2 linked regions of the Homo sapiens genome follow. The protein of the gene in region 1 interacts with the protein of each later gene in a pairwise test. Each region holds a gene or a part of one and is shown on either strand. Other genes may lie near its edges. The genes, in order: ACSL5 and SLC7A14.

What was found.
Region 2: the proteins of ACSL5 (region 1) and SLC7A14 interact in binary tests that used the Homo sapiens proteins (3 or more experiments, as listed by UniProt).

The regions. Positions count from the first base shown.
Region 1 is NC_000010.11:112,372,418-112,376,331, reverse strand, and holds the start of ACSL5 (long-chain-fatty-acid--CoA ligase 5), read right to left. Parts: upstream 2,217-3,914; 5' UTR 2,063-2,216; intron 1,065-2,062; exon of another isoform or gene 790-1,064; intron 128-789; exon of another isoform or gene 23-127; coding exon of another isoform or gene 1-22. UniProt on the Homo sapiens protein: Catalyzes the conversion of long-chain fatty acids to their active form acyl-CoAs for both synthesis of cellular lipids, and degradation via beta-oxidation.
Region 2 is NC_000003.12:170,460,162-170,464,075, forward strand, and holds part of SLC7A14 (solute carrier family 7 member 14), read right to left. Parts: 3' UTR 1-3,914. UniProt on the Homo sapiens protein: Imports 4-aminobutanoate (GABA) into lysosomes. May act as a GABA sensor that regulates mTORC2-dependent INS signaling and gluconeogenesis. The transport mechanism and substrate selectivity remain to be elucidated.

The sequences.
Region 1 (3,914 bases):
AGGGTGGCTTCAGAGCGTCCATGCAGGCAGAAGGCCGGCCCAGAGTGTCCCCAGTTCTGCCCTGCTCTGAGCTGTCCCGAGTCAGGCCATGTCAGGCTTTCTAACGTGCTCGGGGACTTCACTTCCTGGTTTTAATTTTTTTTTTCACAACTGAAAGTGGAAGTGTTCTGACCAGGAGGGGAGAAGCTGCCAAAGCTACCCTGGCTCCGTGTCAAAGCCTTTCACCTCAGCCCCTAAGGGCCGACACAAAAGCCAGCTTGCCTCAACACAGTTGACCCTGCCCTCCTGTGGCCTATCATCTTTCAACTAAGATGAAAACAAACAAACTAAAATGACTTGAGGTGCCCCCTCAGATCAGAAGCCTCACAGAGGCAGAGGTGACGCTGTTCCCTGCTGGATTCGGAGGACAGGAAAGTCTGGCTAGAGGGTACCTCAGCCCTCAGACCCACACAAACACCTTCTACCCCGCCTCTCTCCAGTCGCCAGAGCTGCCTGCCTTGGTCTCTGAAGAAGTTCTGGCAAAGCCAAGAAAATAAGCAAGTCAGGAACGACAGGGCTGTGAGTCGTTCAATTGGCATGGTTTCTTTCCCTCTGATACAGTCACACCTCAAAACTTAACTTAAAAATCGATTCTTTCGCCTTGGTCACCCCCAGTATTACCAGGACCTGTATTAGTCTCATTTTTGATCCGCCTAAGGCTGTGGCTACAGGGGGGCCCTGGAGCTACCATTCTCAGATTAGGAAGCCGAAATGACAAATTTTCCTGCCCCTTCCCCACCTCACAGATACCTCAGAATGAAGCAGCACTTTCTCCAGCCTCGATCCCCCACGAAGGCTCACAGGAAGTTCAGCATGATCCTGGCTCTTTGCTGGAGCTAGATTAGGGTTTGTTCTTTCTACAGAGCAGTTCTTAAAAGCTTCCTACTAAGGAAGCCAGGGTGAGCTGTGCCACAGTCTCAGAGAACACAAGAGCTGAGCCCTTGGCCTCTGGGGAGCCGCCTTTGGACATGGAAGAAAGATGAAGGGCTGGGAGACGAAGTGGGGCCTGTGGCATTCCATCCTCTGGCTCATCTCACGGCTGGAGGAGCACTTGTCATTTGCTTAGTTTCAGGAACTCAGCTCCCCAAGAGGCAACTTCCTCTAGAGGAGAGCAGAGGATGGCAGAGTGGGTGTCGAATCTCAGCCACACTAATACCTCTGAGCCCTTCACCGGGTGCTGTCTTCCTTCACCAAAGGGCTCAGGGCCAGGGGAAGATGAGGTTTTATTTCTTTTTTTTTTATTGACCTCCTCCAGTAAAAATGCTCAAGTTCAGGAAGGTTGAGTCATTCTAAAGGCCCATCAGAGTTGTATTCCTATCAATCCTCTGTGCACATGAGTGACACCCTCAGGATTTCAGGGGGTAACTGAAAGCTTTGGCAACCCACAACAATTCTGCATTATTGGGCAGGCTGTGGAAACTGACCAATCAAGTCTCAAATTCTAGCCACACCACCTTGGAGCTATGTAGCTTAGGCCATGCTGTTTAACAGCCTGGAGACGCACTATGCCTCTGTGAAATGGGAAGGATACCACCTGCTTTATAGGATGAGATACACCAATGAAGTAACATACATAATCTACCCAGAACAGTCCCCAGCACCTAATCGAATATCTGCTGATTCCCTTCCTCTCTGTCTGCCAAATGGGACTCTCTGCCCTCAGCAGCTGACGCACGATCCTTCTAACTACACTGAGACAGAAATTTCTTAATGGAAGATGAAGGAGACCCACATTCTGGCTTGGTGTGCTTTAGTACACTTACCAAAATCAGTGTTCCCTTCCAATTCCATCCCCTGCTAGCATTTGGATAGCTCATATATCTCCACCCCTTTTCCAACTGATTTTTTTCTTTGCCTCCCACACAAGTCAGCTGAGATTACTATTCAACTAAATGTAATTTCATGTTATTAAAGAGCCTTAGGTTGAGCATAACAAATCCCACTTTCTTTCCCCACACCAATCCCCTCCCTACTATCTCACAGATATATTCAATATAGTGCAGGTAGTATCATTGCAGCTTACCTTGGAAGAAGACTCTCCCTTCCTGGGTCCAGGAAGTGCTCCCCTCACAGCTGGCTGTATTGATTCAGCACCACATTCAGGCACTTCTACTCTTTCCACAGCTCCTAGGACTGACTGGGACACACCCGAAGCTACTGTGTACTGTCCTGAGAGTGGCCAACACACTCCCCTGGAACCTTTGAATCTGTCACAACAGAAGTTCAAAGGTAGAAGTTACCTGTTCAAACACTTGTAGTAACCTCTGACAGTAAGAAAAGCAGTGTTGGGCAAAAGATTAAAACAAGAGATTGTTATGCAATGGGCTTAAGCGGGAAAAAAAAAAAAGACGGCCCTTAGTTCAGAAAGCTAACGTTTACCAAGAGAAACCTTCGATAAAGCTCTACCTCAGGGGAAGGAGAAGGGGTAGACAGGGCTTTGCATCTGCTTTGGGGGCACAATCCTTGAGACTGTGATAGGAAGAGGAAGGTCTAGATTACTAGAAGAAAAAGGGCTCCTTGAGATCAGAGTGAGAGAAAAATGAGAAGCCACTTTAATTGGCTCAAGCTATAACTTTAGGATTCAGACTAAGCAGAGGTGTGCATTTGCAGACCAGCTATCTTCTAGAAGGGACCACTGCCCCCTTCAGAATTAGAACGTCTCCAAGACAACCAAATGAGCCAAATCAGTCTAGAGTCTAGGCTGAGAGACAAGCCTAGGACGGTTGTTTTTAGGATTCGGAATCACGAACACAGTCTGCAGCACACATAGTTTAGCAAGGCGCTAGAATAGGAAGCATTGCTTCCTGGCTAACACGGTGAAACCCCGTCTCTACTGAATACACAAAAAATTAGCCGGGCGTGGTGGTGGGCCCCTGTAGTCCCAGCTACTTGGGAGGCTGAGGCAGGAGAATGGTGTGAACCCGGGAGGTGGAGCTTGCAGTGAGCCAAGATCGCGCCACTGCACTCCAGCCTGGGCGACACAGCGAGACTCTGTCTCAAAAAAAAAAAAAAAAAAAGAAGCATTGCTACTGCGTCATGGCTCAGCCATCCTACTCTCTCCTTTTTTTTTTTTTTTTTTTTTTTTGAGACGGAGTCTCACCGCAACCTCCACTTCCTGAGTTCAAGCAATTCTCCTGCCTCAGCCTCTGGAGTGGCTGGGATTACAGGCATGCACCACAATGCCTGGCTAATTTTTTTTTTTTTTTTTGTATTTTTAGCAGAGACAGGGTTTCACCATGTTGGCCAGGCTGGTCTCGAACTCCTGACTTCAAGTGATCTGCCTGCCTCGGCCTCCCGAAGTGCTGGGATTATAGGCATGAGCCACCATGCCCAGCCTCTCTTTCCACTTTGAAGTTCTCTAGTCACCATTCTTGATTCCAAGATCATTAGGACTGCAAGGCATCATTACTAAACAAAAACAGTGGGTAGAAATGAAAGAAACCCTGGAGATGATGTGCAAACTTACTGTATAGGTGAGGCCAGTGAGGCCTTTTCAGGTGAAAGAAGGCTTCTGGAATCACACAACCAGTCGGTCAAGACAGCACCTGACTCAGAGTCATGAGAACCCCTGCAGTGCCTTGGCCCCTATGCTGCCCCATTGATCTGTGTATGTTTAGCTACCAGAATGAAGCCGCGGACCCTCGCAGTGAGTGTTACAGTTCTTAAAGGCGGTGTGTCTAGAGTTTGTTCCTTCTGATGTTCAGATGTGTTCAGAGTTTCTTCCTTCTGGTGGGTTTGTGGTCTTGCTGGCTCAGGAGTAAAGCTACAGACCTTTGCAGTGAGCATTACAGCTCATAAAAGCAGCGTAGACCCAAAGAGTGAGCAGTAGCAAGATTTATTGCAAAGAGCTAAAGAACAAACCTTCCACAGTGTGA
Region 2 (3,914 bases), on another chromosome or scaffold:
CAACACTAGGAATTACCATCTGTAAATGCAAGTTGTACTTCTCAAGGACGAAACGAAAAAGAAACAAGTTAGTAAAATTTACAAGCTGTATTTATAACTTTGGATATTAATTAAACAGTAACGTTTCTTTTCCACAGTGAGAAAAGCTAGAATGTGGAGTCCTGTCATCAGATGATGTGACTACATGGAATGAGGACTATAGCTGCTCTCTTAAAAACCTGCAGCCCCCTCTCTCAGCCCAGACAGTTGAGGTATTTATGCACCATCATAACATTAACAGCATCTTTGCTTTGGAAAGTGGGGGTTTATGATTTCTAGGGTAAATCCTCGCCTTTGGGAGTGTGAATGAGACAAGCGTATCAGCAACTGCCAAGACCAATCAATAGATGTGCATGGAACATTCTCTTCATCCCCAAATCAGAATGAACACAGTCCTTTAAAGTCTGCACTGCAGGTGAAATTCACATGACTCACAATTCCCTTTAGCCAATGTTACCGAAGTCAGTGTCAAGAAAACTTAACAGAAAAAAAAAAAAGCACAGAGTGAGTTCCTACCATAAAAATCCAGGCTGCCCCTGTTTCCTAGCTCTAATATAAGCCATTTTCTTTCCTTATGTGTACCAACATGTACTAAATGTCCCAAAGAGTAAGAAATTAGAACTACCTGTTGTCCGAAGACCTTAAGCCCAAAGCTATCTGTGAAAGTCCTATAGGGATTTTGTAATTCTGTGTGTGCAGAACACAGTTAAATTATTATTATTATTATTTTTGAGACGGAGTTTTGCTCTTATTGCCCAGGCTGGAGTGCAATGGTGTGATCTCGACTCACTGCAACCTCTGCCTCCCGGGTTCAAGCGATTCTCCTGCCTCAGCCTCCCTAATAGCTGGGATTACAGGCATGCAACACCACACCTGGCTAATTTTGTATTTTTAGTAGAGATGGGGTTTCTCCATGTTGGTCAGGCTGGTCTTGAACTCCTGGCCTCAGGTGATCCACCCGCCTCGGCCTCCCAAAGTGCTGGGATTACAGGCATGAGCCACTGCGCCCGGCCCAGTTTAATGATTTTGTACACTGTTTTAGTTGATACTGCAGAACACATATTCACCTTTGATGGGCTACAAAACTTCCACTCACCCCTTGTGGGTTCTAAGTCCTAAAAAAAAGAACACTCTATTTTCTTAGAGAAGTAATTTTGGCAAAAGGCGACTGCCTAGCTGTTTCAGAATGATTTCAGAATGATGCCTGCATTACTCAAGCAGGACAAGAAGAGGAAAGCATTTTAAAAAGGAAGTTGCTCTTAAGGAGAAAAAAAAATTAAAACAGCCTTTCTTCTAAAACTCTTAGAGAAAATAAAAGTAGGACATAGGACCAACCATTATGTACATGAAAGGGGCTTTTTGCTACCCATCCCCATTCCCAGCGAGAAATACTAAGTAAACTCCTTGGTGAAACTTCAGCTTTCTGGTTCCTGCGTGTGGTGGGGCCTGCGGTTTGGGATGCTGTTTCTGCACTTGCTCACTGTTGAATTTCAAATACTCTTTCGTGGCCAGGCCACCACTGGTTACCTGCTGGTGCCTCTCTCTCTTAGGATCTCCAGAGGTCTTTGCAGACACGTGGGTCCTCAGTTTCAGGGAGCTACACAGGTACAGGGGAAGCAGAGGCTCCATGAAGACTTTGGATAGAAACATCTTCCTTGACACGTCTTGTTCCAAACAGCATGAAAATGGAGCGCTGGCACACAGCCCTCGTGGCGACTTCTGGATGTGTTTCCTTTGCTCTCCTCTCTTTCCCTCCATTGGAAGTTAGGGACACCTCTGCACTACTCACTGACCTGAGGTTTATACTCCAATAGTGGACCCCTACCCGCTGCGTAGACTCCGTAAGCAGACCCCCGCTCTGGCTTCAGACACATTTCCTGAGTTCTGACTTTTCCACACAATAAGACATTCTAATCTGAGATTCATAATTAGGTAAACCTGTGTTTGGCCCTCCGCGGACTTTCCTCTGACATCTTGGGCCCCTGGTAAAACCTAGTGCGAAAGGGGACGGCAATTTTCTCCAGTCTTCTATGTGGATTTTCAACCTGATGTAGCTTCTGTTTATGTTGCAGATAAGAGGTGGTTTCTTGTAAGGTAGACTTCCAACAAATGTTGGATGTCTAACAAATGTTGGATTTGTCTTCCAATAAAAGAAAGGATGTCAGGTTTACCAACCCTTTTCAGCAGAATAGAGGAGAGAGATTTCTTTGAAGGAGTTTGTGTTTTGTTTTTCAATAATTACTAGATTTATATTCTGGCTGACCTATAGATTCTGAAGAAGGATGGATTGTTAAATTCAACAACTCCCTTCCGCCCGCCATTTATTTAAACAGATTTATCATGACCATTATGTAGGCATTTGATTAGCTACTAGTTTGTTACTAAGAAGTAGAACTGGCACACGCCTATAATCCCAGCTGCTTGGGAGGCTGAGGCAGGAGAATAGCTTGAACCCGGGAGGTGAAGGTTGCAGTGAGCCAAGATCATGCCACTGCACTCCAGCCTGGGTGACAGAATGAGACTCTGTCTAAAAAAAAAAAAGTAGCACTCAAGCTCAGTAAAACCTGGAGCTGAGATTTTACTGTTTAGATTAGATAGATATAAAAAGTTGTTAGGTTTAGTTGTTGAAACCTATTGTTGAAAACTTTAAAGTGGCTGTTAAATTGTGTTGCTTGTCCACGTATTAAATGGCTGTATTTTCTTAGGTTAATGATGAATGCAGACACAGGACTCAAAGTACAGCTATTTTTCTCTTTAATTTGTTAAATCAATTTGGAGTGTATATGTGGCTTGTTAGTTCCTTGCATAGGTAAGGAAGCCACCGTCTCAGCTTTCTTAAAGTTCAGCCTTCCTGGATTCACACTTTCGTCAGTTCCCCAATTATTTCCCACTCTCTCACCCGAGGAAAGCCAGTCAGCTCAGTGTGACATTCAAGTCTCTCTGTGAGTGATCCCTCACCTGCCTTCCTAGCATTATTTCTTATTGTTGCATGTATAAGTCATGCATAAATCATGTGCTCCAGGCAAACTAGCTCCTTGCTTTCTCTTAATGGAGGCACAGCACAAATTCTTAGCCAGAGGACCACAAACTAGTAGACCTTATTCATGCCGATCCTTTGCTTGGCATGCCTTTCTCTCATTTCTACTTGATAAAATTCTACCCACTTCACAAGTTCCAACACAAGTGTGACATTCTTTATGACCTTTCCAGAGGAAGAAGGCCTTCTTCATATTTGACCCCCCACAGCACATTACAAGTCCGTCATCTCACCTGACACATTCACTATTGTTCTTTATTTATATATCCCATTTCCCCTATTTGATTTTCCTTTTTAAGAGACAGGGTATTCTTCTGTTACCCAGGCTGGAGTACAGTGGTGTGATCATAGCTCACTGCAGCCTTGAACTCCTGGGCTCAAGTGATCCTCCTCCCTCAGTCTCTCAACTATCTGGGATCATAGGCACATGCCACCACACCAAGCTCTATTTCCTCTACTTCTTAAGAGCTGGATTTTTATCTGACTTACGATATCAATATCTGCCATAGTACATAATAGGCACTCCACAAGTAATTGTTGAATAAATATTTCATTTTCCTCCAATTCATTCATTCTGTCAATCATCAGGTATTTCTTGAATACACACTATATGCCAGGCACATGTAGCTAGCAAAATCTAGGTTTGAAGCTTACCTGTGGATTTTAATGATCTATGCTATTTCAAACCTCTACCTGCATGGGGAAAGATTTGTTCTTATCATGCAGAAGTACTTCTTCTTGTCATTACCACTAATTCTATTATTTTTCATGGTGTCACTCATTGGCAAATTTAGTAAAGCATGTCAGGGTTCTGCATTTATGTACTAAATATACGTCT